2 separate regions of the Homo sapiens genome follow, and region 2 is linked to region 1. Evidence: fine-mapped expression QTL. A gene starts in region 1. The other region holds a variant in brackets. All regions are shown on one strand. Distances are from middle to middle.

Evidence for each region. PIP is the estimated chance that this variant, and not a neighbour inherited with it, causes the effect.
Region 2: its variant is fine-mapped to the expression of REST in nasal epithelium (TOPMed, PIP above 0.99).

The regions. Positions count from the first base shown.
Region 1 is chr4:56,899,556-56,914,847 of GRCh38, reverse strand. It overlaps REST (RE1 silencing transcription factor), which reads right to left and starts at 6,948. Exons shown (of 4, transcript NM_005612.5): 1 at 6,635-6,948; 2 at 3,312-4,218. The coding sequence starts at 4,209. RefSeq lists enhancers at 1-80, 4,702-5,631, 6,562-7,491 and silencers at 5,722-6,571, 6,682-7,071, 7,171-7,465.
Region 2 is chr4:56,947,267-56,962,558 of GRCh38, reverse strand. No RefSeq gene overlaps it. Among named protein-coding and RNA genes, the nearest start is that of NOA1, 23 kb to the left of the region's middle. The variant G/A (reference allele first, on the strand shown) is at 8,931.

The DNA of each region.
Region 1 (15,292 bases):
GCTTGGTGGCTCAGGCCTGTAATCCCAGCACTTCAGGAGGCTGAGGTGGGCAGACGACCTGAGGTCAGGAGTTCAAGACTAGCCTGGCCAACACGGTGAAACCACATCTCTACTGAAAATACAAAAATTAGCCGGGCATGGTGGAAGGCACCTGTAATCCCAGCTAAATGAATATGGTGTACTTATTTATGAGTTTAGTATATATGATGGCTGGGATTTAAGATATTGTAGGTAAGGCTGGTTTAGTCTAACAGTCTGTCTAATTCAAACTGTCAAGTGATTAATGGGGTTGTGTCCCCAAGTAACTTTCATTTCCTACTTTATGTATTTTTGTAATGCTTGACCTTTACTTCTGAAATCGAATGGTTTCAAAGCATCGAGACAATCAATCACAGCTTATGACAAATTCCAAAGGGACTACAAATTCTTTTACTGGACTAAATTTTAAAGCATTCAACACATGAGCCATCCATCTGCTGGGGCTTAGCAATCCTGTAACAGAGGTCACTCTTGTAATGGAATTTCACCTGCAAGTTTTATTGTTTAAGCCTGCCAGTTAATAGTTTTAAGTATCTGGGATATAAAAAATAAGTAAATAAAATAAATTTTTAAAAATTAAGTCGCTGGATACGGTGGCTCACACCCATAATCCCAGCACTTTGGGAGGCTAAGGGCAGATTACTTGAGCTCAGGAGTTACAGACCAATCTGGGCAACATGGCGAAACCCTGTCTCTACCATACAAATATCAGCCAGGTGTGGTGGCATGCGTCTGTGGTCCCAGCTACCTGGGGGACTGAGGCGAGAGGGTCACAAGTCCAGGAGGTCAAGGCTGCAGTGAGCAGTGATCTCGCCACTGCACTCCAGGATGGGTGACAAAGTAAAACTATCTCAAAAAAAAAACTGGCCAGGCGCGGTGGCTCACGCCTGTAATCCCAGCACTTTGGGAGGCCGAGGCAGATCACGAGGTCAGGAGTTCGAGACTAGCCTGGCCAACATAGTGAAACCCCATCTCTACTAAAAAAACAAAAAATTAGCTAGCCATGGTGGTGGGCACCTATAATCCCAGCTACTGGGGAGGCTGAGGCATGAGAATCGCTTGAACCTGGGAGGTGGAGGTTGTAGTGAGCCGAGATCGCGTCACTGCACTCCAGCCTGGGGCACAGAGGGAGATCCTATCTCCAAAACAAAACAAAACAAAAATTAAGTCTACCACTCCACTTAAAGCAGCATCAATTCCCCTCCTCAGTGTCCCCTTTACCAGTGGGGTTCAGTCCTGTCAAGTGCCAACTCCTGTAAGAGGAGACCTGAGGCAAACAGCATCCCACACCCCCTATTCATTTGTGACCCCAAGAGTAGAGTACTGGATTATTCTCTATCCATTCATCAGGACCCAAATGTACCAATTCTTACCAAGAAAATGTAACAGAAATGTCCAAATGAGCTACCAATAGTTAAAAACATTTATTTGAAAAATGAGGCCCCTCAATTACAATATTTAAAACCCAATTTAAATTTTAAAAAATTAGGGTGTGGTAGGGCACATCTGTAGTCCCAGTTACTTTGGAGGTTGAGATGGGAGGACTGCCTGAACCCAGGAGGTAGAGGCTGTGGTGAGCTGTGATCACACCACTGCCTGGGCTCCAGGGTGAGACTCCATCTCAAATAAATCAATAAATGAATAAATAAATCCAATTAAAAAAACTACAGTGAACAGCAGCTGAATAAAACCCAATTTAAAAGTGAATGACTAGTATGCACAGTGGCTCACGCCTATAATCCCAACACTTGGGAAGACTGTGGCAGGAGGATCACTTGAGGCCAGGTGTTCAAGACCAGCCTGGGCAACATAGTGAGACCCCCCATCTCCACAAAAAGAAATTAAAAAAAAAAAAAAAGTTTCGGCTGGGTGCGGTAGCCCACCCCTATAATCCCAGCAATTTAGGAGGCCAAAGTGGGTAGATCACCTGAGGTCAGGAGTTTGAGACCAGCCTGGCCAATATGGCAAAACCCCATCTCTACTAAAAATACAAAAATTAGCCAGGGGTGGCACTCACGCCTGTAATCCCAGCATTCTGGGAGGCTGAGGTGGGCGGATCACGAGGTCAGGAGTTCAAGACCAGCCTGGGCAACATGGTGAAACCCCATCTCTACTAAAAATACAAAATCAGCTGGGTGTGGTGGTGGGCACCTATAGTCCCAGCCACTCAGGAGGCTGAGGCAGGAGAACTGCTTGAACCTGGGAGACAGAGGTTGCAGTGAGCCAAGACCATGCCACTGCACTCCAGCCTCGACAACAGAGCCAGACTCCGTCTCAAAAAAAAAAAATTAGCCAGGCACGGTGGTGGGTGCCTGTAATCCCAGCTACTCGGGAGGCTGAGCCAGGGAGGCTGAAGCAAGATAATCACTTGAACCCTGAGGCAGAGGTTACACTGAGCTGAGATCTTGCCACTGCACTCCAGCCTGGGCGACAAAGCCAGACTGTCTCAAAAAAAAAAAAAAAAAAAAAGTTTCAACTTTTTTTATACAGTTGCGCTTAGTATCAGTTCAAACACCCTAAACATAATTGTCTGAAAAATACATTTTCTACAAGTGTTTGCTTTCATAGGAAAATAGTTTCAATTGGTGATAATCCCACCCACCTTTTAAAAACTACCTTCTCACATTTCTTTTTTGTGGACAAAGACAAGTTGTTCCATTTAGGAACTCAATGCTATAAGTCAAATGTTTTAAAGTTTGAGGCTTTTGTTAAGTGGGCATGTGCAAGGTTAATCACTGAGTTTTCCTTTTTATATAAGCCCTCAATTTCTTTCAGAAACTACACTGCATCTTAAATGTGTTCACTGTCACAGAAATAAATACACAAACTTTTTTTTTTCTGTTTTCTTTTTGAGACGGGGGTCTTTCCACGTTTCCCAGACTGGTCTAGAACTTCTGGGCTCAGGCAGTCCTTACGCCTCGGCCTCCCGAGGTGCTGGGATTACAGGCGTGAGCCACCATGCACGGCCAGTCTAACTTGCTGAAGGTAAACCCCAAGTTAGGATATGTACTTTAGTAAGACCACGGTAAGATCTCTTGGCTGTTCCTCTGTGCTTTACATGTAACTTCACATAATCCTCCCAACCTAGATATTGTTACTCCATGGAGAAATTTCTGAACAAAGAGGTTAAACAACTTGTGCAAGGTCACAAAGATAGCAAAATGGAACCTGGATTTGAACCAGAGTCCTTTTTCTCAAGCACTACTTAACTAACCACTCAAGTAACAATCAGAAAAGAGAACTGAACTTATGGACTAGAAAGCTTCTCTTACCTGTATGAGTTCTAACATGCTGAACATAATTGTTTTTTCTGTCTGAAAAATAGTTGCATTTTCCACATGTGTATACTTTCCTTGGAAAATGGTTTCTTAAATGTTTCCTCCAGTGATACTCGCTCACTGTTGTGTATGTGCAAATGATACACTTGTAGACTCGCTCATTATCCCCAGCTCTGGTGTGGTGTTTCAGGTGTGCTGTATAGTGATCATATCGATTAGTATTGTAGCCGCAGCGGTCACAGCGAATGGGGCCCTTGGAGAAATCTCCCTCTTCTGCAGTGGAAGAGCCAGATTCCCTGGCTTTTGCCTGCTTCTCTGCACTCTCTTCCACAAAAAATTTCTTAGCACTGTGAACTCTGATGTGATGCACAAACTGTTCTTCAGATTCTGCTTCATATTGGCATGGCTTACAGCGAAAGGGTTTGGTCTTCGAGCTCTTGCCTTTGTCCTCCGCTCCAGGTGTTTCAGGGGGAAGATCTTTATTTGAACTGTAAATATCTGGAGCACCTGATGCCTCAAATACAGGCTGAGGTTCTACGACGCTGAGTTCCAAACTTCTCAGTTCCATGTTTTCCAGTCCATGAGGTTCACCTTTTATATCAGCAGACTCTTCAAGTCCTTCTCCTTCTTCACTATCTGAAAAGTTGTTATCCCCAACCGGCATCAGTTCTGCCATCTGTCTTTCTTCACCGACCAGGTAATCACAGCAGCTGCCATTTACTTCCCCAGTTAAGGCCACATTTGCCAGCATAATAAGCTGAGGTGCGGCCAGTTCAGCTTTGGAAAGGTCATGCAAGTCATACATGTCGTTAGGCAGGGCCATTCCAATGTTGCCACTGCTGGTAAACAGCCCTCCTCCTCCAGAAGACTGCCCCATTACCTGGGTGGCCATAACTGTATTCTGAATTAAAAACAAAACAAAACAAGAGCACCAGTTTAAACACTACTGTTACTGGCTTAAAACCACATCGCTGTAATTCTTCATAACTTAAAAATTTTCCAGTATGATCTTTATAACTCAGTAAACTTCATCGCCTATTAAAAACAAATCTTTAAAATAGTTGTTAATTCCCAATAGTCTACTGCAATCACCAAAAAAAAATTTCTACTATCCCTATAAAACAATTCTACCAATTGTTTGCACAACTCATTCATCATTCAGCCACTGGCATGTGGTGCCTCCTCAAGCACTTTTAATTGTTCTGGTGGGGATAAAAAGTAACCTTCATTTTTACTGTTAAAATTATTTTAAAAATTCAAAACATGAGTAGTAAATTATTGTCCTCCCAACTTTTCCCCCCTTCAACAGTTCAATGGTCTGAATCAGAAAGCCCAGAAATCCACAAGCCATTCAGTGCATTTATTAAGTACACAAACACATCTGGAAAGTACAAGCCTGTAATAATTGTTCAACTTAATTGGATTTCGCATGAACTCAACTAACTCCAAAAGAATAAACTACTGTGAAAAAGTAGCAGTCAGCCCCTTAATTTTTCGACAACTCCACAGGCTTAAAAGAAAAAACATTTATGGACCCCTTTTCTTGTGAAAAAGGAAGTTTGATTTATTCAAAACTTCACAAATAAAAATTAATAAGCTTATTTTTCTGCAGGCTGAAGTTCCACAACACTGAATTCCAAGCTTTTCAATACGAATAAAATCATCGTGCAACTCAACTCGACAATCAGCAACTTTCTTGCATTGTGCTTGACTTGGCCTACTTGCCTAGTGGAAGCCATTACAAGATCACCTTCTTCAAAACAAGTTGGGCTTTCTAGATGCTACGTTACTTCTCAATCTAAAAGGTGCCATTCTCAAACGAAGTGTTCACTCGCAAATTAAAAAAAGTAAGAAGTTCTAAGAAAATAAAGTTAAACCGAAAATACAAAAAGTAACCCGCTTCACCCAAGTGTATAAACACAAACCGGTTTAGTTCTACGTACCAACAAAAGTTGGAAGCAAATGCCATCACAGAAAACAGAGGGCGAAGGCTGTCCCGGGGCTGAACAGCCCAAGCTATTGGGTAATTTGGCCCAACATCGACTTTTCTAATTGCTCCCTAACCCCTAACTGCCACCCCAAATGGAATTTTAACGATTGTTAGGAAGACCGTCCAGGCACAGCCCGAAAGCCCAACGTGCTGCACGAATTCCTCCGTGCTGCTGCCACCAGCGCCTGCCTCGGCGGCGGCATTCCTAACTGAAATAGGCATTCGGCCATTTTCTCAAAATACCAAACACAAAGCAGCTCTTTGCAAACTCGGGCGCTCTCGCTTCCTCTCGCCTCGGCCCGCTCACTGCACACATTTACACACCAACTCGCGGGAGTCGCCCCGACACTCGTCCTGAGCCTTTTCCTGCGCTCTCCAACACTAAAACGGGGGAGGGGATCAAGCTCGAGGCGCTGTTTGGCCGGAACCAGTCCTCCCCGAGTCCAGGCAGCCCCCTCCCCAGCCCTAGGGCCCCCGTCCCGGGAGAGGACGGAAAGTTACCGCGCAGCCGGCGTCCGGGCTTCTCCGACCGCCCCCGGGCCCCTCCGACCGCCCCGGGGCTCGCCCAACGCCCAGGGCCGGGGAGGCTCCGCGGGCGCCCTCGCGAGGCGTCGGGCTCCGAGCGCCGGAGGGGGCCCCCACACGGGCCAGCCGCCACCCCCGCGCCCCGGAAGTTTGCGAACTTCACTCCCCCACGGCGCCCGGCAGGACGCGCGCCCCAGCCCCGCCAGCTCCAGCGGTCGGGTGGCCGGACGCGGGGGCCAGCGGCGCCGGACGGCTGAAGCGCAGAAATCGCTGTCCAGCCCCGCAGGCGGAACCGCCCGGGCCCCGGGGCTGACTCAACCCGCCCGGCCGCACTCAACGGCGCCTTCCGGCGACAGGGAGAGGCCCTGGGGGAGGGGGCCAGGAGGGCCGCGGGCCGGCGCGGGGCTGCGGTGGGACCCGGGGGCAGGAGGAGGAAGCAGAGGAAGTTTCAGGACTACGGGCCCGAGCAGCTCCGCTCCTTGGCCTCAAAGGACCTGACTCGGTGGAGCGTCCGGGCCAGCGCGGAGGCGGCGTCCCAGCCTCCAGTGGGGAGGGGGTCCAGGCGACGCGCTGCTCCCAACAAACGCCCCCAGCCCCCGGGCGGCTGCTGTGTAACCCGATCCTGCTCGGCCGCCAGCCCCCGCCCGGCGGGGCCGCCGCCGCCGGAGCCACAGTATCTGCAAATCAGCCCTGGACAGCGCCTGACTCCGCGTCCTTCCGCGCCCTCCCCGTCCCGCCACTGCCGCCGCCCGGGCGGCCCTCCCCCACCCTGACCGAGCCCCCAGCCCAGCGCCCCACTTACCGGCCTTCCTCGGTGAGGAGGGGCGGGCGACCCTGAGTCGCCGCTCCTTCTCCGACTACTTTTCTTTGTTGCTGGAGTTTCGGGGGAGAGGTGGGGGAGGGTGGTAAAGTTGGGTGCTGGGGCCGTCGTGGACCAAGAAGGCCCAGGAGTGGGGCTGCAGAGGGTGCTCAGGCCTCCGGGCCTCGCCCTGCCGTCTCGGCTGCGGCAGCCGCCGCCAGGGTCTGGGGCCCCGGGCCTCGGCGGCGCTCGCTCCGCTGCTGCGCCGCGAGCTCGCGGCAGCCGCACATTCCAACACAGGACGCTGCGCCGCGCACCCAGTCCGCGCCGCCGCCGCCGCCACCGCCCGCGGGACACGCCCCCTCCGACGCCCGCGCGCGCCCGCGAGACACGCCCCCTCCGACGCCCGCGCGCGTGGCCGCTAGGCGCGCCCCGCCCCTCTACCAAGCAAGGAGTGCCCCAGTCTCCAGCTCGCCTGGGGGCGCGTCTAGGGGGAGCCGCCCGTAATCCTCCCGGCCCCTCACTCCTGCCCTTAGGTCAGAAAAGAGGCGGGCCCCACTCCCTTTCTCGATTTCTATTACAAACAAACAACAAAAGTTCCCCCCAGCCCTGGCGTGCATGCATGAGAATAGAGCTGTTAAAAGAAGAATCCGCAGGCTTTGACGGGTCTCTTTAGAGCTATTGTCACCGGCCTCTCAAGTCTAAAGCGCTCCAAGATACCCTTCAGATCTCTTCAAGTCTCCACCCATAGCTGTCCTTGACTAATTAAGCTTCGTTTTAAGCGTCTGCGGTAAAAAAAAAAAAAAAAAAAAAAAGTCTTCCAAATTTCAAACTACCGGAGGGGGAATGCAGTCAGTTTGGGAGAAGTGAGAAGAAAACGTTTCAGGAAGGAGGTTATGGACTCAGAAAGCGTGAGCGTGAGGACTGAGGGGACAGATCCCTAGACGTGGCAGGTAGCAGGTCATTGCTGAGCCCGGAAAGCACGACTGCAGGGGAGGAATTACCCTCAGATGACAGAAGAAAAGGTGGTGAGGACGGGGAGGCTGCCTGGGGCCACGGTGTGTCGGAGTAACCGGGCTCACGTCTATGAAGCGGGATAACCAAGCGGAATGCCTAGCCCATAGTCATGTGCTAACAAAAACAAAAACAACAAAAAAGAACAGAGAGAGAGTAATTCCACCCCCTTTCACACCTGAAAGAGCTTCTCAGTCTGCCTTTGATACCTTCCTAAACGTCAGTCGTAAGTCACACCTGTCCTCAGAAGCATAGTGGCTCCCCATGACTACAAGCTTAAAGCTTAAACCCCTTAGTGTGGCGTTCAAGCCCCTACTTAACTTGACCTAGATAAGTCTGACTATTGCTTGGTATTACAACATAAGTAGCAAGTGCTATGGGGGTTTGCCAGTAGGAAGATGGATCCCAAGAGGTTCTAGAAACTTTTCACAGTAGATGTATTCAGTCTGACCTTGGAGAATGAGGAAAACTTCAACAGGTGGAAAGTAGGGCAAGGAACACTCTACACAGTGAAAAGGGCAAGCTCAAAATCCCAAAGCAGTTGTTAAGACATCCCAGCTTCTCCTCAGGGTACCTCACTTCCTTCTCTTTGAAGTTCCTTTATTTGTTTCTCTTAGGGCAGGGCTTCCAGACTCTTCATTTCCTGGTATACCCACGTAGGACCTCTGTTTCCCTCTATCTGGACAATATATTACTAATTAATGCAGTCTCCGATGCAAGATGAAATGAAGACCCTAAGGTGCTCGACCACCAAAAGTTTCAATGAGGCAATTTCAAATGTAACACCTCTCCATGAATCAAACCTGAAAAGTATTCATTTTCATTGAACCAAAGAGACAGGAAGGAAGGGAGGGAGGGAGGGAGGAAAGGAAGATCGACATTTTTAGGACTGGTACAAACTTTTCTATATATATTTTATTTGTTTAACTAAAATCAAGTTTGAGGTCACATGGCTTTTTTAGATGCTGTAGCCCAGGGTACAATTCAGGCCTCTACCAAGGTTGTCAAAGACATAAACTTGTTTTCTTTCCCTTTTTTAGGTCCAAAAAGGCAAAAATGAAATGTCTCTTGTTAAACTTACTAAATGTCCTTCATTTCCTCAATCTGACTGCTTACTGGAAATGTCTTATTAATTGCAAATTTATTCCCACATATTGTGATGCAAATAGAAGAATGGCGAATGGGCAGCTGCATTCATTTAAAATTAGCAGAGGCCCTTGTTCAAGGGATGGCATATTCAGAGTGACCCAAATTATCATGACATGAAGGCCACAGGTCAAATTCATAGGCCAAATTACAAATCAATTGAAAATTTTCTTGAGGGAAGCTGTTGCTATGAACTTGAATTCCTAACTGTTTTTCAAAAGTCTGTATTTTACTTTGCTGTATCCAAACTTTAGGATCTTCTGCAAGATAAAAACTCTGAAATGAGAATGAGTTCTGCTTTTCTTATATGGTTTTTTTCCTGCATATTTAACTCATCAATTTTTTTATTTTAATTATCATATGTTCTTAATAGTATTTTCTCTAGAGAGATTTCTTTCTTTTTTTTTTTTTTTTTTTTTTTGAGACAGAATTTGGCTCTTTTTGCCCAGGCTGGAGTGCAATAGCACGATCTCGGCTCACCGCAACCTCCGCCTCCCGGGTTCAAGCAATTCTCCTGCCTCAGCCTCCCGAGTAGCTGGGATTACAGGCATGTGCCACCACGCCAAGCTAATTTTGTATTTTTAGTTAGAGACGGGGGTTTCTCCATGTTGGTCAGGCTGGTCTCGAACTCCCAACCTCAGGTGATCCGCCTGCCTCGGCTTCCCAAAGTTCTGGGATTACAGGCGTGAGCCACCACACCTGGCCAATTATATATATATATATATATTATTTTTTTTTTTGACATGGAGTCTTGCTCTGTCACCCAGGCTGGAATGCAAAGGTGCGATCTCGGCTCACTGCAACCTCCACCTCCCGGGTTCAAGTGATTCTCCTGCCTCAGCCTCCCGAGTAGCTAGGATTACAGGCACGTGCCACCTTGTCTGGCTAATTTTTGTATTTTTAGTAGAGATGGTGTTTCACCATGTTGGCCAGGCTGGTCTTGAACTCTTGACCTCAGATGATCCACCTGCCTGGGCCTCCCAAAGTGCTAGGATTACAGGTGTGAGCCACCCCGCCTGGGAGTCTTGCTCTGTCGCCCAGGCTAGAATGCAGTGGCAAGATCTTGGCTCACTGGAACCTCTGCCTCCTGGGTTCAAGCAATTCTCCTGCCTCAGCCTCCCGAGTAGCTGAGATTACAGGCACCCGCTAGGACGCCCAGCTAATTTTTGTATTTTAGTAGAGATGGGGTTTCACTATGTTGGTCAGGCTAGTCTCGAACTCCTGACCTGAGGTGATCCACCCGCCTCGGCCTCCCAAAGTGCTGGGATTACCTGTGTAAGCCACCGAGTCCAGCCAGCATCATCTACTCTTGCTGCCGGTTGGACTCTGACCTCTTGTTCTGGTTCTGATAACTGGAATAGTGTCTTACTCATTATAGGCATCAACAGCTTGAGCCAGGGAGGTTTTCCCTTCATGCTGAGAAGGGAAGGAGGTGAACAAGAGAACTTGAGACTTGAGCTGGGCTCCTTCCTGCCTTCTTTTGGAGCCTAGATCACATTTGGAACCCGCTCCCATTTTCGTCCAATCCTAATGCCCTTCCCTGCTGTTTCTGCTCCCATTTTCGTCCAATCCTAATGCCCTTCCCTGCTGTTTCTGTCTCTAACATTTATTACTAACATGCTAGGTATTTTTATTTATTTACCCTACTTAGGAACTTAAGCTCCAGAAAGGCAGAGACATTTTTTTATCCCCAGCACCTATAACTCGTTAGTTGCTCAACAAATATTAGTTAGATGAATGGTTACAAAATCCTAGCTTGGTATCACAATCTCTCAAAGTGGGGACCATCCTTACCCATGTCGGTACCCAACGTTCAGTACCCATCACAGTCTTCCCTCATGTTAAGCATGAGCCTGCCTCCTTGAATCTCCCTAATAACTACTGTTAAATAAATTAATGCTCCTGGATCCCTGGTCTTGGGGTTCTACCCTCCTGGTGAAAATCTCCCTGCCTGCTCTTCTGCATATTGTATTCCTAGCACATTCCTGATTTCACGCATCAGCCTCTGGTTGGATATTCCTTGGTGATCATTAACAATCTGTTTTGGCCAGGTGCGGTGGCTCACGCCTGTAATCCCAGCACTTTGGGAGGCTGAGGCAGGCAGATCACCTGAAGTCGAGAGTTCTAGACCAGCCTGACCAACATAGAGAAACCCTGTCTCTACTAAAAATACAAAATGAGCTGGGCATGGTGGCACACGCCTGTAATCCCAGCTACTTAAGAGGCTGAGGCGGGAGAATGGCTTGAACCTGGGAGGCGGAGGTTGCGTGAGCAGAGATCGTGCCAGTGCACTCCAGCCTGGGCAACAAGAACAGAACTCCATCTCAAAAAAAAAAAAAAATGTTTCAACCTTAGGTATCGTTCCATTTGATGGGTTTAAATACAAGTTACATAGCCTATCAACTGCATTGCTCTGCCTCTCTCTTCTCTGGCCTTTACCATTGTCCTTCCTTCCAGAATTCTCCCTCCAAATGTTATGTAGGCCACAAAATGTCACAAATGCAAGAGATCTTAGAGGTGCAGGCTCTTGTTTTATATGTAAAAGGAGACAGGCCTACAAGCTTTTGGCTTGTCCAGGTTTGCACAAGTAGTTAGGGCACAGATGGAGGTAGGACCCATGACTCAATTTCCAGCCAGTCCGGTGCTCTTTCCATGTCTCTCAGACACTTTGTCCAGTCTTCTTTCTGCTCTACCCTGGCCCTATTCCCGAAAACATCTTTTAATCTTTGGGGCCTGATGGGCCACTATGTACAATGGCTTTAGAGATGTATATATTTGAGATAGGGGGACTTTTCAGATCCGCAATTCCATAACTCTGAAGCCTACTTTTTATATTAAGATTAATTACCTTCTGGGCCAGGCCCAGTGGTTCACGCCTGTAATCCCAGCACTTAGGGAGCCCGAAGTGGAAAGATCACTTGAGCCCAAGAGTTCGAGACCAGCCTGGGCAACACAGTGCGACCTCATCTCTAGTAAAAATAATTTTTTAAAAATAGCTGGTGTGGTGAGGTGTGCCTGTAGTCCCAGCTACTTGGGAGGCTGAGGTAGGAGGATTGCTTGAGTGCAGGAGATTGGGGCTGCAGTGAGCCAGGATCACACCACTGCACTCCAGCTGGGTGACACAGCAAGACCACGTCTCGAAAAAAAAAAAAAAAGATTTATTACCTTCTGGCTTGGGAAGCAGAAGCCCTTATTGTCTTCCATGGCATTTAAAACACTCAAGAGCCAACATTGACATGTTAATTTACAAAGCTAATCATCAATTTAGAGGAATATGGACTTGACTCAGAAGACAACTTCTGGCAACCTTTCCCTTCTTCCCAAGGAGAGGTTAAAACCTTCCCACATGAACTCCTAAAGTGCCATAAGTATACTCTTGCGCCTGTTTTCTTTCCCATGTCTTTCTCATCTGTCTGAGAGGGTCTAGAGACAAGAAACTGTGTTGTGTGTTCTCAACATGCTGATATTCCTGACACAGTAAATAAAATCAAACTTCTGGCAAAGTGTATCAACCCAAAGCTAAAGCCAGGCACTGGCTTTATGCATAAATGTTTCCTAGATTAATGAACCTGTACATTTTCCTTGTTTGTCTAAAAATTATCACTAAACCTACTAGAATGGCTAAAAGTTTAAAAAGCTAAGTATAAAATGCAACAAGGGCTGGGTGCGGTTCTCATGCCTATAATTCCAGCACTTTGGGAGGCCAAGGGGCGCAGATCACTTGAGGTCAGAAGTTCAAAACCAGCCTGGGCATCATGGCAAAACCCTGTCTCTACCAAAAATACAAAAAGTTAGGTGTGGTGGTGTGCACCTGTGATCTCAGCTACTCGGGAGGCTGAGGTGGGAAGATCACTTGAGCCCAGGGGGTGGAGGTTGTAGCAAGCTGAGATCGAAACACAGCACTTTACAGCCGGGCACAGTGGCTCCCACCTGTAATCCCAGTAGTTTGGGAGGGCGAGGCGGGCAGATCACGAGGTCAGGAGATCGAGACCTTCCTGGTTAACACGGTGAAACCCTGTCTCTACTAAAAAGTACCAAAAAATTAGCCAGGCGTGTTAGTGGGCACCTGTAGTCCCAGCCATTTGGGAGTCTGAGGCAGGAGAATGGCGTGAACCTGGGAAACGGAGGTTGCAGTGAGCCAAGATTGCACCACTGCACTCCAGTCTGGGCGACAGAGCGAGACGCCGTCTCAAAAAAAAAAAAAAAAAAAAACAATGCGACAAAGATACTGAGCACCTGGAATTCTCTCTCTCTTTTCCTCTCTCTCCCTCTTCTCTCTTGAGACAGGATCTTGCTGCATCACCCAGGCTGGAGTGCAGTGTCATGATCTCAGCTCACTGAAACCTCTGCCTCCTGGACTCAAGCGATCCTCCCCCTTCAGCATCCCGAGTAGCTGGGACTACATGTACGACCTACCACACCCAGCTAATTTTTTAAAATTTCTTTTTTGTGGAGACATAGTCTCACTATTTTTCAGGCTGGTCTTGAACTCCTGGGCTCAAGTGATGCTCCCACCTTGGCCTCCCAAAGTGCTGGGACTATAGGAGTGAACCGCCTGCCTAGCCTATGACTCTAATATTGCTGATGGAAATGCAAACTGTTGTTAACAACTTTGGAAATGCAACACTTTTGCAAACTTGAATTTTCTTATAGACACTTAGCATATAATCCAGTCATCACATTCCTAGATATTTACACAAGAGAACTGAAAACCTGTGGTACCTAAAGACCCAAATGGGAGGTGTCTAACAACTAGAAACAACCTAAAAGTAGTCTAGACTGTGAATGAAAAGCAAATTTGTATCTACCCATTCAATAGAATGATATTGTTGGGGAGGAAAAACTTTTCCTCTATCCTCTTAGGTTGTTTTTTTTTTTTTTTTTTTTGAGACAGAATCTCACTCTGTCACCCAGGCTGGAGTGTAGTGGTGCGATCTTGGTTCACTACAACCTCTGCCTCCCATGTTCAAGCGATTCTTCTGCCTCAGCCTCCTGAGTAGCTGGGACTACAGGCGCACACCACCACGCCCAGCTAATTTTTGTGTTTTTTGTGTTTTTTGAGATGAAGTTTTGCTCTTGTTGCCCAGGTTGAAATGCAACGGCATGATCTTGGCTCACCACAACCTCCGCATCTCCACTTGCGGGTTCAATCGATTTGCCTGCCTCAGCCTCCCGAGTAGCTGGGATTACAGGCACACGCCACCACACCTGGCTAATTTTGTATTTTTAGTAGAGACGGGGTTTCTCGATGTTGGTCAGGCTGGTCTCGAACTCCAGACCTCAGGCGATCCACCCATTGTCTCAGCCTCCCAAAGTGCTGGGATTACAGGCGTGAGCCACCGCTCCCGGCCTATCCTCTTAGGTTTAATCATTGGCGGCATGCAAATCAAATTGACAAAAGACATACTGGCAACATAAAAGACAAATTTTTTTTTTTTTTTGAGACAGAGTCTCTCTATCCCCAAGGCTGGAGTACAATGGCGCGATTTCAGTCTACTGCAACCTCCTCCTCCTAGGTTCAAGTGATTCTCATGCCTCAGCCTCTGGAGTAGCTGAGATTACAGGCACCCGGCACCATACCCAGCTAATTTTTGCATTTTTAGTAGAGAGCCTTTCACCATGTTGGCCAAGCTGGTCTTGAACTCCTGACCTCAGGTTATCTGCCCGCCTCAGCCTCCCAAAGTGCTGAGATTACAGGCATGAGCCACTGCTCCCAGCCCAGAAAAGACACAATTAATCATATATTAAATGTACATAAAAGATTTGATCAAAAAATGTGATTCACGGGGCAGTTGGAATCTGGGCCTATATACCAACTTAATAGAGGAAGGAGAGAGGGAAAAGGGCACTTAGGAGAAAACAAATGACTTTTTGGAAAGACAAATGGGCTTTAGGAGAATAGATGGGAGATATGATAGTTTTGTAACAATGCCTTTTAGATGTGGTGTGCAGACTTCTCTCTCTTCTTTTGTTTTTCTTCAAACCTTGCTTGGTTGAAAGTGACTTCTCATTAGTGGTGATAAGAGTCAATTGTCCCTGGTTGCTTTGCTGGGAAGGGATTTACAAAAACTGAATTCTTTTGGGAGGCTCTGCTTTCAGGGATATAAGAGATTTCAAGAACTCAGATGGCCTTCTACTCAAAATAATTTTTATGCCACAGCTGTGTATTCCGGACTCATTCAATAATAAAATAAAGTAACTACAGATACATGCAACCACATAGATGAGTCTCGAAAGCATTATGCTAAGGGAAAGAAGCCAGATGCAAAAGGCCACTTACCTCATAATTCCATGTGTATACCATTCAGGGAAAGGCAAGCTATGGAAACAAATCAGTGGTTGCCGTGGGCTGGTGGTAAAGGAAGAGGATTGACTACAAAGGGCACAAAGGAATTTTGGGGGGTGACATAATTGTTGTATTTACTTATTTATTTATTTATTCAGAGACAGGGTTTCGCTCTGTTGCCCAGGCCAGAGTGCAGTGGCATAATCATAGCTCAC
Region 2 (15,292 bases), 48 kb before region 1:
GAGACCAGATGTCATTTCTCTTATTTGGAGTTAGCAGTCAGTATATGAAAAAATGGCAGGAAAATTAATTTCTCCAAAATTCATTGGCTTAAATAAGATAGAAGTGAGTAGGTGGCTCTGCTCCAAGGATCCAGCTGGTGGAACATTCCATGGCCATCTGTAGGTCTAAGGTGGCTGCCCAAGTTGTCATCCTTTTCCAGCAAGGGTAAAAAGGGGGAAAGTATGGAGAGCAAGCAACTTCCCTATTTAAAAGAAGGGAAGAAAAGCTGGATGTTGCACACATCAGTTTACATAGTCCACAGGTCAAGTCACATGGCCACACCCACCCATAAGGAAGCTGGGAAATGGAGGAGGAAATGGGAACCATTTGGGGTTTTTATTAAGGAAAAATGGGGAGAATGGATACTAGAGAACAAGTAGAAATTTACCTTACACAATTTGACAATGCCTGAAAATCTTAGATAAAAAAGGATTCAAGGCCAGATGTAGTGGCTCACACCTGTAATCCCAGCACTTTGGGAAGCCAAGGCAGGAGAATCGCTTGAGGCCAGGAGTTCAAGATCAGCCTGGTCAACATAGTGAGACCCCATCTCTATTATTTTTTTTAATAAAAATGAATTGTCGGCTGGACACAGTGGCTCAACGCCTGTAATCCCAGCACTCTGGGAGGCCAAGGCAAGTGGATCACCTGAGGTCAGGAGTTAGAGACTAGCCTGGACAACATGGTGAAACCCCATCTCTACTAAAAACACAAAAATTAGCCAGGCGTGGTGGGCACCTGTAATCCCAGCTACTCGGGAGGCTGAGGCAGGAGAATTGCACGAACCCAGGAGAAGGAAGTTGCAGTGAGCCGAGATCACACCACTGCACTCCAGCCTGGGCAACAAGAGCAAAACTTCATCCCAAAAAAACTAAATAAATAAAGATTTTTAAAAAGCTATGTATTTCTAGCAACTGAGGTCTATTCTGCAACTGAGAGGACACTTTAACCATTTTATTTACATTTCATCTTTATATGACTGAATAACATTACATCAATCAGAAGTCTTTATTGGCCAGGAGCAGTGGCTCATGCCTGTAATCCCAACATTTTGGGATGCCAAGGCAGGAGGATTGCTTGAGTTTAGGAGTTCAAGACCAGCCTGGGCAACACAGCAAGACCTCATCTCTACTAAAACCCAAAAAAATTAGCCAGGTGTGGCGCTGTGTGCCTGTAATCTCAGCTACTGGAGAGGCTGAGTCAGGAGGATCACTTGAGCCTGGGATATGGAGGCTGCAGTGAGCTATGATCACATTACTGCACTCCAGCCTGGGCAACAGAGCGAGACCCTGTCTGAAAAAAGGAAAAAAGAAAAAGTCTACACCTTTTGTTATTCCTAGCTGAGTAAGTAGTACCACAGCTGTGTCATGAAGAATTGGCAAGTCAAGTCCCAGATCCTAATGTTGAAATAAATGCTGGTAAGATAAGCTAGGCTGAAACGCAGTTAGAGCCATGAAATTCCTGAGAGGACCATGTTCTGTCCCAACATATGGGAGCCCCCATGTATTTCACACTCTCCTGTCTTCTCCCCACTCCTCAGTCCTCTTCTAAGTCCTCTTAGATTAAATATAATGGAGAATTTTTTAAGATGATGCAACTTGTTGTAGACCTTTCATAGTGTTTCAAAGTGAGTACTACTGGTATCTTGGGCAAGGTGGTTCTTTCTTTATATATAAAACTGCATTTCAGCCGGGCGCGGTGGCTCACGCCTGTAATCCCAGCACTTTGGAAGACCGAGGCGGGCGGATCATGAGATCAGGAGATTGAGACCATCCTGGCCAACAAGGTGAAACCCCGTCTCTACTAAAAATACAAAAATTAGCTGACTGCGCTGGCGCGTGCCTGTAGTCCCAGCTACTCCGGAGACTGGGGCAGGAAAATCCCTGGAACCTGGTAGGCGGAAGCTGCAGTGAGCCAAGATCGCGCCACTGCAGTCCAGCCTGGGCAACAGAGCAAGACTCCGTCTCAAAAAAAAACAAAAAAACTGCATTTCATTATGTCTGGTATCTCTCATCCCAGACACTAAATGCAGTAGCAACTCCCTCTGCTGTCAGTCCTGGTGACAACTGGAAAGTGCCCCCAACATCATATTACCTCTAGAGGGCGGCAGCTTCCCAAATGGAGAAAATTGATTGGCAGTTGATTTCTAGTTTTTATTTTGGAGGGAATGAAATACCATTTATTTTATAAGTTAAAATTGTGTCTGGGTGCGGTGGCTCACACCTGTAATCCAACACTTTGGGAGGCCAAGGTGGGTGGATCACCTGAGGTCGGGAGTTCGAGAGCAGCCTGACCAACATGGAGAAACCCCATCTCTACTAAAAAAAAAATACAAAATTAGCCAGGTGTGGTGGCACATGCCTGTAATCCCAGCTACTTGGGAGGCTGAGGCAGGAGAATCGCTTGAACCCGGGAGGCAGAGGTTGCGATGAGCTAAGACCGTGCCATTGCACTCCAGCCTGGGCACAAGAGCAAAACTCCATCTCAAAAAAAAAAAAAAAAATTATGGTCATTATATTTCTACCTATGGTTGAAAACAGGAGTTCACAGTTCAGAGCTTAGGCCAGGATATTTAGGTAGAATTAAAACAAAAAACAGGCAGGAAAGAAAGCCAGCAAAGGGTGAACTGGGCCTTTGTGGAGAAACAATCTAAAAACTGACTACTATCACCCTGACAACTTAAGAAAATGTATTTCAGAAAACAGGGCTCACACCCATAATCCAAACACTTTGGGAGGCCAAGGCAGGAGGATCCCTTGAAGCCAGGCATTCAAGACCAGCCCTGGCAACATAGTTAAGACCCTGTCTCTACAAAAAAAAAAATTTAATTTAGCTGGGCATGGTGACACCCACCTGTAGTCTCAGCTATTCAGGAGGCTGAGGTGGGAAGATCCCTTGAGCCTGGGAGGTTGAGGCTGCAGTAAGCCATGATTGCACCACTGCACTCCAGCCTGGGTGACAGAGCAAGACTCCATCTCAAAAAAAAAAAAAGCAGGAAAGAAAGCCAGCAAAAAGAGTGAGAAAGATGCTCTATGCCTAGAATTAGTTGAGGACTTCTACTGGGATCTGGTATTAATTTATTCCATATTGTGCCTCCAATTTAATGCAGCCTAGGATCACTGCTAGGATCAAGTGTTTCCTAGTAGATTTTCCTTTAAGAAAGTTCCATTACTGTATTGGTGCAGTAGTGCATTGCTTAGCAACAGGGATGTGTTCTAAGAAATGCATCGTTAGGCAATTTCATCTTTGGACAAACATCATAAAGTGTATTTACACAAACCTAGATGGTATAGCCTACTCTACACCTAGGCTGTATGGTATAGCCTATGGCTCCTAGGCTACAAACCTGTACAACATGTTGCTGTACTGAATTCTGTAGGCAATTGTAACACAAATCATTAGGCAATAGGTATTTTCTGACTCCATTATAATTTTACCAGACTACGGCTGTATATGTGGCCCATTGCTGACCAAGAAGTCATTATGCGATACATGACTGTACTTCTTTATCCATTAATCTGAATATAACGACATCTTTTGAATCAGTAGTCACTTACACTATGACAGGGTACAAGAATTAGTGGGCTCTTCTGGCCAGGAACGGGAGGAGAAATTAAGGGCAAAGTACCAACTCCTCACTTCCACAGATCACAGAGGTGGTTAGGGGTTGCTAGAAAACAATGAAGCAAGTTTATTCTAGATTGTTTACCTGGCTCTGCAGCACTGTGGTGTTGAGCATGTCACCTCTTTTGTATTCATGACACCCAAAAGAAGTAAAATAAATTCCATCAAAGTACTTTTTGACTTTTATGTGATATTAGGTTCAAAGTTTTATTTTAAAAAGTTACACGTAATCCCTCTGCTTTTCCCCCCTCTAATTAAACTAAAATAACAACATCTTCTTCAAAGTTACTAAGACAAATTAAAGTTGTAATATGTTTTGTATCTTTAATCACCATAAATGCCAAGCTGTGCCGATCACTAAGTCTTTACTGTATAGTTCCCCAGAGTCTAGTTTATTTAACTTGAGACACTCACTTCCCATAACAACCAAGGAGAAGCGGAGTAGAGATGCAATCTTGTGTGCCTGTGTCTCTAGTGTTCAGACTCTTCTTGCACAATGGACATAGGCTGGTTTCCTGCAGCTGACTAACATGGAGGAGCTCCAGCTGTGTCAGCCATGACAGAGTTGTTATTGCTTCACTGAGTAAGCACCCAGCGCGCAAGCTGAGGCGGGCTGTTTCATAGACGGGCTCGGATCATTTACCCTGGCTTCCCTCCCACTTGGCTCTGTGTCGTGGAGCATTAGAATCATTTCCATTCTTTCTCAGCTGTTCCATTTTCTTTTGGCCACTTTCCTCCTCCCAGGGGGATTGTTTTCTCTCAATTGTCAAAGAGTAATGCTTAAACATTAAAAACAAGATTTCAGACTCGTGAATCAAATCGATGACACCTCTGCCTGCTCTGAATGTCTCTCTGTCATATTATCTGCCCCCATTAAGACCTTGTCGTGAGAGGGGAATGGTTCAAGATAGGTTTTTTTGTTTTTTGTTTTGTTGTTGTTGTTTTATTTTTTCAGAGACAGGGTCTCACTCGGCTGCCCAGGCTGGAGTGTAGTGGTGTAATCACAGCTCAACGCAGCCTTGACCTCCTGGGCTCAAGTGATACTCCCGCCTCAGCCACCCGAGTAGCTGGAACTATAGGCAGGTGCCACCACACCCAGCTAAATTTTTTATTTTTGTAGAGACAGGGTCTCACTTTGTTGCCCAGGCTGGTCTCAAACTCCTAGCTTCACCAATCCTCCCACCTCAGCCTCCCAAAGTGCTGGGATTACAGGTGTGAGCCACCACACCAGGCCAAGATTACTATTTTAACATCATATTGCAGTGATGCCTCACCTTTTCCCTTCATGTCATGGAGTTTCATGATCTGAATACTCCTAAGTGTATCTGGATCATCCTCAAAACACCCACTGCTTGGATTCCCAGGTTCCTGCTTTCAAAAGCTGCTTTTGGCTTCGCAAATAATTCTCCGAATTTACCTACTGTGTAGTCAATCTAGTGGGAGAATTTATTTGGTCTTAATATTCTTATTGGTAGATGCTGTAATAGTATGATGCTTAATCACAGACACCGTCAGTACCTCTACCTGGTAGCTGTGGTAAATTGGAAAAAACTGAGGTCACACATACACAAAACAAGCAGACACGTTAGAGAATACATCATCATGTGTCAGGTGATATTGGAAGTGAAATATATGGAAGTGAAAGACTGCCAAGATCCTTTCTAACCTTTCAGTAAGCCCTAGAAAATAGCAGGCATGGCTGGGCGTGGTGGCTCACCCCGGTAATCCCAGCATTTTGGGAGGCCGAGGCAGGTGGATCACGAGGTCAGGAGTTTGAGACCAGCCTGGCCAACATAGTGAAACCCCGTCTCAACTAAAAATACAAAGGTGGCACATGCCTGTAATCCTAGCTACTCGGGAGGCTGAGGCAGGAGAATTGCTTGAACCTGGGAGGCAGAAGTTGCAGCGAGCCGAGATCGTGCCACTGCACACCAGCCCCAGGCGACAGCGTGAGACTCCGTCTCAGAAAAAAAGAAGAAAAGAAAAAGAAAATAGCAGACATTCAATGAATGGATCAATAGAGTGAGAGGATTTTTTTGTTTGCTTGGTTTTTGCCTTCCCTGGAAAATAGGGAAAGAGCAAACTTAAATTTGCTTAGTAGCATTTACACTAACCTCTTATAGAGTTTCTTCCTTTCCTGCATAAAGCCAGTACCTCATGGTTGTTGTATTTCAGACTTCAGATTACTCGTAGTTGCTATAATCATATGATAGCCCATATATCTTTTTACTCCTTTATACTTATATAATAATAATAATAGCTATCACTTATATAGTAATAAAATGAGCCAGGCACTCTTTCAAGTGCTTTACATATATTAACTGAATCCTTACAGCAACCCCATGCAGAAATACTATTATTACCCACATTTACAGATGAGGAAACTGAGGCACAAATAACTTACCCAGGATCTAACTAATAAGTGATGGAGCTGTGATTCAAACAAACCCAGGCACTCTATCTCCAGAACTCATGTGGGGCTTCGTTGTTTTATTTTGAAAAAGGTTCTCACTCTGTCACCCAGGCTAGAGTGCAGTGACACAGTCTCAGCTCACTATGGCACCCACCTCCCAGGCTCAAGCAATCCTTCCATGTCAGCCACCCAAGTAGCTGGACTACAGGCACACGCCACCGCACTCAACTAATTTTTTAATTTTTTGTAGAAACAAGGTCTCACTATATTTCCCAGGCTGGTCTCAAACCCCTGTGCTCAAGCGATCTTCCTGAGTTGGCCTCCCAAAGTGCTAGGACTGCAGGTGTGAGCCACCGTGTGCCCAGCCTGGGGTTTTTAATTATAACAGACTTTGTTTTCATGTACAGTTCTATGGATTTTATCACACGTATATGTTTGTTTAATGACCACCATAATCACAATATAGAACAGTTCTGGCCGGGCACAGTGGCCTGTAATCCCAGCACTTTGGGAGGCTGAGGCAGGTGGATCATGAGGTCAGGAGTTCAAGACCAGCCTGGCTAAGATGGTGAAACCACGTCTCTACTAAAAATACAAAAATTAACCAGGCATAGTGGCGGGTACCTGTAATCCCAGCTACTCATGAGGCTGAGGCAGGGAGAATCCCTTGAACGCGGGAGGCAGAGGTTGCAGTGAGCCAAGATCACAACACTGCACTCCAGCCTGGGCAACAGAGTGAGACTCCATCTCAAAAAAAAGAAAAAAAAGAACAGTTCCATCAATATCCATGTCTTCAACCACTGCACAGTAATTCCTCTATATACTAAAACCCATCAACAAATCTAAAGGTGAGAATTTTTCAACCTTAGGAAGGAAACCTACTTTGAAGACCTTCAAAGATAATAGCACAATTCTCTCGGGAATTCTGGACAACTACCACTTAATCTCCTTCTGGCTTCCTTTGAATTCTACCATATATAATTTCTCCCTGAGCATTTGTCTCAGAGCAGTGTGTGTGTGTGTGTGTGTGTGTGTGTGTGTGTGTAATGTGCTGTGCCCTTGCTGTCTTACTTCAGCACTGCTGCCCAAACCAAAACAGGTATCCCAGTTTGATTTCCATGCTCTCTCACCACCTCAGATGGCTTTAAATGGACTGTGCTTCCCTGGCTGGCTGGGAATCTTTCACATTGCTGATGAGCTTGCCAAGTACCACGGACAGATCACAGCATGCATGGAAATCCTTACCCACAATTCTGATTAAGAAAATAGTAAATTCGATATACAGAAAATTTGGGAAGCAAACATCCAAAAATTACACTAAACTATCATAGAAAAGAGACTGTAATTTTTCATCCTAATCCTACTCATGAGATTAGAACCGGTGATCCCCATTTACTTGCAAATCAAAAAGCCTCAAAAACCAATTTGATAATTTGGCCCTGAACTTGTTTAAATGCCCCTGCTTTTCCTACTTGTGTAGCTCTCAATCCAGTTGCCTGTTTCTTGCTACATCTTACTGACTTTCCCTAAACAGGAGTTACTGGGTTGTCCAATTAAAAGCTTTCTATTATTGCAAGTTTTGCTCAGCATTTAGCATTTGACCTAAATAGATTTATCTTTTTTTTCCCTGTCTTCGACTTTAAACTCTGTGGTGAGGCCGGGCACGGTGGCTCACGTCTGTAATCCCAGCATTTTGGGAGGCCAAGGCAGACAGATCACCTGAGGTTGGGAGTTTGAGACCAGCCTCACCAATGTGGAGAAACCCCATCTCTATTAAAAATACAAAATTAGTCAGGCATGGTGGCGGGCGCCTGTAATCCCAGCTTACTCGGGAGACTGAGGCAGGAGAATCGCTTGAACCCAGGAGGCGGAGGTTGCAGTGAGCTGAGATCGCGCCATTGCACTCCCGCCTGGGCAACAAGAGCGAATCTCTGTCTTTTAAAAAAAAAAAAAAAAAAAAAAAACTATGGTGAAATACTCAACAGGAAGGCAAATTAAAGAAATGGGGCTGCTTTCCTTTAAAATACCAGATAAAAGATGTATTTTACTGAAACACTAGCTTTTTCATTAGATAAATAAAGCTTTATGTAAAGCTAATTCTGAGAAATGTGTTAAAATTTTTCAGCATGGGAACGTGGACAAGAGACTGTTCAACAAAGGAGAACAATGTGTAACTGTCCCATGTACCCACTAACTCCCCCGTTGGGCATGGAGTAAGTCACTTCTAGGTACAGTTGCTCATTTGTTCGTTGAAAATGCTTCTTTTTTATTAACTAGGTTTGAGGACATGATTAGGTTTATATCCACATCTATTGCTGAATAACAAACCACCCTGAAACTTGGTGACTTGAACCAAGCGATTATTTGCTCCCATTCTTTAGTTTGGCAACTTAATCTAGGCTCCGCTCAATGGTACTTCTGCTCTGTGGCGACATGCATTTGCACACAGCACACAGCCAGGCTGACCTCACGCACAGGAGTTTCAGCTGAGATGGTTGTAACAGCTGAGCAAGTGAGGCATTTTCCATTGATCACTCTCTCTTCCAAGGGTCTCATCCTCAAGTAGGCTAGTTCAAGCTTGTTCACAAGGTGACAGTGTTCACAAAAAGCCTGAGAGTAGAGCTTGCAAAGCCTCTGGAGGCCGAAGCTCAAAGTCACACAGTGCCACTTCTGCTGCATTTATTGGTCAAAGCAAGTCACAATGGCAGCACAGATTCAAACATGTACTGGAATTTGTGGCTATTTTAATCCATCACAAGCTTTTGGCGTTGATCACCCTGAAGAAAATACAAATATAATGTGCTATCTAATTGGCCTATAGAAAGTGAATCCAGGCCGGGCACGGTGGCTCAA[G/A]CCTTTAATCCCAGCACTTTGGGAGGCCAAGATGGGTGGATCACGAGGTCAGGAGTTCGAGACCAGCCTGGCCAATATGGTGAAACCCCGCCTCTACTAAAAATACAAAAATTAGCTGGGTGTGGTTGCGTGTGCCTGTAGTCCCAGCTACTCAGGAGGCTGAGGCAGAAGACTCGCTTGAACCTGGAACCTGGGAAGTGGAGGTTGCAGTGAGCCGGGATTGCACCACTGCACTCCAGCCTGGGCGACAGAGTGAGACTCCATCTCAAAAAAAAAAAAAAAAATCCAATATAAATCTATCAAATAAGAAATACTGAGTCCAGGCACAGTGGCTCATGCCTGTAATCCCAGCACTTCGGGAGGCAGAGGCAGGTGGATCACCTAAGGTCAGGAGTTCGAGACCAGCCTGACCAACATGGTGAAACCCCATCTCTACTAAAAATATAAAAAGTAGCTGGGCATGGTAGTGCATGCCTGTAATCCCAGCTACTCAGGAGGATGAGGCAGGACAATCGCTTGAACCTGGGAGGTAGAGGTTGTGTTGAGGTAAGATTGCGCCACTGCACTCCAGCCTGGGCAACAAGATGAAACTCCGTCTTAAAAAAAATAAAGAAAGAAAGAAAAGAAAAGAAAAAAAGAGAAATATTATCCTAATTTAAATTTACCTCAGAAGTCTGATACACAGAGCTGCTATATGACGAGCAAAGAAGTGGGGAGAGATTTTCAGCTTTTGATTTTATCATAAATCCTTTAGGAATATTTTGTTTTTACTTATTAATGTGTACATATTACTTGGGTAAATTTCAATGAAAAAAAAAATCCATGCAGACTCAATTCTGGGCTATCTCTCCCTCTAGCTCCAGTACTTATACTAGAAGAAAGCTATCCTAGGAAGTCCTCTACCTGGGAAGTCTCTGTAATGGGGAAGGTAATGAGAACACAGAAATGAAGGGCCTTCATGTCTCAAAATAGTATCCTACTGCTCTCCAAGAAAGAAAAATGGACAAGGGTTTGAGGCAGAGTTCAAGCTGAGGGTCCTGAAGCCATACAAACTCGTTTCTTTTCCTGGCTCCATAACCAGGGAGAGAGGTGGGGAGGCCGTGTGGCTGGAAGTAATTTCAGAACCCCTTTTAGCAGTGGCCATCTGCCAGCATTTTCGCATCTCTATCCCTCCCCTCCCCACACCCGCTTGTCCTGCCAGAGCACACTGGGCCCATACTGAGACAGAAGGGGAGGCAGGGAACAAGGAGAACCATATAGGAGGTCCCTTTGTTCCTAAATCCATCTTCAACTCCATGTTTTACTAGAATCTTATATTGGGGCTGGGTGCAGTGGCTCACGCCTGTAATCCCAGCACTTTGGGAGGCCGAGGTGGGCGGATCACGAGTTCAGGAGATCAAGACCATCCTGGCTAACACGGTGAAACCCCGTCTTTACTAAAAATACAAAAAATTAGCCGGGCGCGGTGGCGGGTGCCTGTAGTCCCAGCTACTTGGGGGGCTGAGGCAGAATGGTGTGAATCCAGGAGGCAGAGCTTGCAGTGAGCCAAGATCGCGCCACTGCACTCCAGCCTGGGTGAAAGAGCGAGACTCCATCTCAAAAAAAAAAAAAAAAAAGAATCTTATATTGGGGTATCTAGAGATGTGATAGTGTTGAAATCCAAAAAGAAACTACTTGAACTGTCCCCATCAGTTAGTGTAAAAACTATCAAGATGAAAAAAACATTGGTCAAAAAGGTGTAAAGCCAATTTTTTTTTTTGAGATGGAGTCTTGCTCTGTCGCCCAGGCTGGAGTGCAGTGGCACAATCTCGGCTCACTGCAACCTCCACTTCGTTCAAGCGATTTTTCTGCCTCAGCCTCCCGAGTAACTGGGACTACAGGCGTGTACCACCATGCCTGGCTAATTTTTGTATTTTTAGTAGAGACGAGGTTTCAGTATGTTGGCCAGGCTGGTCTCTAACTTCTGACCTTAAGTGATCTGCCCACCTCGGCCTCCCAGAGTGCTAGGATTACAGGCATGAGCCACCACACCTGGCCAAAAGGTGATTTTTAAATGCTTTATGAATTAATTTCATCATATATTTACAAGGTTATTAAGTTTGAAGAGGCCACTTACTCTAATGAAAGTGATCAAGCATTCTGGCAAGACTTGAAATCTGGGGATCTGCATAGGTCTCAGGGAATATCTTGAGATTTTCCAGGTTCTGCTACAAGGCACATTGCCCACATAGGTATGAATGTCAGAGGTGTGTGAACCAGAGCAACTTCATCTTAAATAGGAGCTGGGTAAAATGAGGCTGAAACCTACAGTGCTGCATTCCCAGATGGTTAAGACATTCTAAGTCACAGGATGAGACAGGAGGTCAGCACAAATTACAGGTCATAAAGACCTTGCTGATAAAACACGTTGCAGTAAAGGAGCCGGCCAAAATCAACCAAAACCAAAATGGTGATGAGAGCAACCTCTGGTCATCCTCACTGCTACACTCCCACCAGCGCCATGACAGTTTACAAATGCCACAGCAACATCAGGAAGTTACCCTACATGGTCCAAAAAGAGAAGGCATAAATAATCCACCCCTTGTTTGGCATAGGAATAACCATAAAAATGGGGAACCAGTAGCTCTCGGGGCTGCTCTGTCCATGGAGTAGCCATTCTTTTATTCCTTTCCTTTTTTTTTTTTTTTTTTTTTTTTTGAGATAGAGTCTTGCTTTGTCACCCAGGCTGGAGTGCAGTGGCACGATCTCAGCTCACTGCAACATCCACCTCCTGAGTTCATGCAATTCTCCTGCCTCAGCCTCCCGAGCAGATGGGATTACAGGCATGCACCACCATGCCAGGCTAATTTTTGTATTTTTAGTAGAGACGGGGTTTCACCATGTTGGCCAGGCTGGTCTCGAACTCCTGATCTCAAGTGATCCACCCATCTCAGCCTCCCAAAGTGCTGGGATTACAGGGGTGAGCCACCATGCCCAACTCCTTTACTTTCTTAATAAACTTGCTTTCACTTTGCATTGTGGACTCGCCCTGAATTCTTTCTTGCGTGAGATCCAAGAACCCTCTCTTGGGGCCTGGATCGGGACCCCCTTTCCTGAAACATATTTCTGGTGACCACAGAAGAGACTATAGTGCAGAAACCTTGACCCAACAGCTACCTTTGGGTGAATGTTGGGGTCCTGTAACATCTTTCTGGTGACCAGGGAAGTGACTATACTGCAGGAACTCCCGACCCAAAGGCTAACATTGGGTAAGTAGTGGGGTCTGGTAACATCTATCTTGCAAACCACAAAAGGGGCAATACCGAGGAGACCCCCTGACCCAAAGGAAATAGACTCCAGCAGTGATTGGACGACTTTGGGTAAGTGGTGGGGTACCCAGGTAAAGAATGGGATTGGGTTAGAGACCCAACTTAGGGGAGTTAGAGTCTCCCCTAAGACAGAGTAGTTTAGAGGCCCCTCTTAATAAAAGGCAAGGATGCTTGACTAACAGCGGGTTAGAGTCCCTTCTAAGATTTAGGGGGTTAGAGACCCCTCTCAGTAAAGTCTACCTCTCAACTAAAAGGGGTTTGGCACTGCAGGCTACGCTCTTTGTATTAATCTGCCTTGCATTCTTTGCTGATGGCTGTGGGTGACAGGATTAGGTATGTACAGGATCGTGGGTCATGGGGAGCTTTTTCCTCCCTATAAGGGGAAACTTGAGAGCTGATGCGACTGCCGGAAAAGATACCTTCATGACAGCAGCCGCAGACACCTGAACTTTTCAGTGTTGCTGCAATGGGTGGGTCTTTCTCTGGCCTCTCTGAGCATTTTGCCTTCCCCACCCTGCCACAGGCAATGCTTTTTTCTCTCTCCTTTCCCTTTTTTTTTTCTTTTTAATCTTTTCTGCTACTCAGGGCAACCATATTGCCCAGAGTCCATGTGTTGAAACTCCAAGTCGGAGGCTGGATTAAGGATGACAGGGTTGCCGGCCGCGGTGGCTCACACCTGTAATCCCAGCACTTTGGGAGGCCAAGGCGAGTGGATCACGATGTCAGGCATTCGAGATCAGCCTGGTCAACATGGTAAAGCCCTGTCTCTACTAAAAATACAAAAATTAGCTAGGCGTGGTGGCACGTGACTGTAATCCCAGCTACTCAAGAGGCTGAGGCAGGAGAATCACTTGATCCTGGGAGGCGGAGGTTGCAGTGAGCTGAGATCATGCCACTGCACTCCAGCCTGGGTGACAGAGCAAGACTCTGTCAAAAAAAAAAAAAAGGAAAGAAAGAAGAGAAAAAAAGATGACAGGGTCCATCTAGGGGCAAATTTAAGCCTTGCCAGTTTGATATTGGGTGCTAAGCAGAATGGCTAATGTCTATGTTTTATCACACATATTTTGCTCTAGCCAGAACAAAAAAAAAATTTACCTTTATGATGCTGCTTGGCCCCCAGGGCGATGGTGCCACAAGCCACATCACTAGGGCCACTCAGGGAAAGGGAACCCAGAAGCCTGGCATCCCGGGAAAAAGATAAGAATTTCTTACCAGTCAGATTTCTGGTTTCTCTCTGAGCAAACAGTTGAATGAATGGTAAAAAAAAAAAAAAAAAAAAAAGTTAATAGCAAAAAGAAAAAAAGTCTTATCTGAAATTCCTTCTATGGAACAGAGTTCCATCAAAGCCAATTTAAAAAGAGCTTATGTAAAAAATAATTATTCTTGCTGCACTTTATACATATAATCAGGCCAAGTATAATAAAGCAAATCAGTCTTATCATGATTTCTCTTTAGTAAAAATAGGAAACTGGAGAGAAATATTATGTTTCAAGAACTATGCTACACTTGTTATTAAATTCTAGTCTCATTAGTTATTTTTAAGTTTGTTTCTGCGATTTAGGCTAACGTTGCTTATTCCTGTGAACCAAGCAGTAATCTCTGACTGCTGCTCTGAAGAAACAAGAGGATGGGTAATGTAAAAATCTGGATCAATATTCTTATTCTGGACACATTACAATCAGCTAACAACCCTGTATCAGCTTAGTTCCAACAGTTGCCCAGTTCATGAAAAGCCTTCTAATTTAGTTTACTTGGAATAACTTTACTTATTTTGCTTTACTCTTGTGCAATATATTGCTGTTATACTCTTTGTGTAGGAATACAGGACAAGCTTACTAAATATTTTCTTAAACACTAATCTTCCAGATATCACCTTTTGTCAAAACTCAAGAGTTATGAATGGACCTTACCATACTGATGCTTTCTGACTGAGCTCCTCTCTACCCTAATTAGCAAGAGACCCTCATAGTTAGGCAGAAATATCTTCGCCCCCTATTCAGCCTGAAGAAGTTACAGAAGATAGATCTTAATCCCCCTGCAACCTTTAGGATTAAGGGTTCTCCTATAAAAGGGCCGGGGGAAATGTCAGAGGAATGTGAACCAGAGCAATTCCATCTTAAATAGGAGCTGGGTAAAATGAGCTAAAACCTAAGGTGCTGCATTGCCAAATAGTTAAGGCATCTATGTCACAGGATGAGATGGGAGATCAGCACAAACTACAGGTCATAAAGACCTTGCTGATAAAACAGGTCGCAGTAAAGGAGCCGGCCAAAACCCACCAAAACCAAACTAGCGACGACAGTGACCTCTGGTTGTCCTCACTGCTACACTCCAACCAGCACCATAACAGTTTACAAACGTGAGGAAGTTACCTTACACAGTCTAAAAGGGGAGGCATGAATAATTCGCCCCTTGTTTAGCATGTCATCAAGAAATAACCACAAAAATAGGCAACCAACAGCTCTTGGGGCTGCTTTGTCTATGGAGTAGCCATTCTTTTATTCCTCTACTTTTTTTTTTTTTTTTTTGAAACGGAGTCTTGCTCTGTAGCCCAGGCTAGAGTGCAATCTTGGCTCACTGCAAGCTCCGTCCCCCGGGTTCACGCCATGCTCCTGCCTCAGCCTCCCGAGTAGCTGGGACTACAGGCGCCCACCACCACGCCCAGCTAATTTTTTTGTATTTTAGTAGAGACGGGGTTTCACCATGTTAGCCAGGATAGTCTCAATCTTCTGACCTCGGGATCCGCCCGCCTCGGCCTCCCAAAGTGCTAGGATTACAGACGTGAGCCACTGCGCCCAGCCATTATTCGTCTACTCTCTTAATAAACTTGGCTTTCACTGCGGACTTGCCCTGAATTCTTTCTTGCGCGAGATCCAAGAACACTCTCTTGGGGTCTGGATCGGGACCGCCTTTTTTTTTTTTTTTTTTTTTTTTTGAGACAGCGTCTCATTCTGTTGCCCCGGCTAGAGTGCAGTGGCGCGATCTTGGCTCACTGCAACCTCCGCCTCCCACGTTCAAGCGATTCTCCTGCCTCAGCCTCCCGAGTAGCTGGGA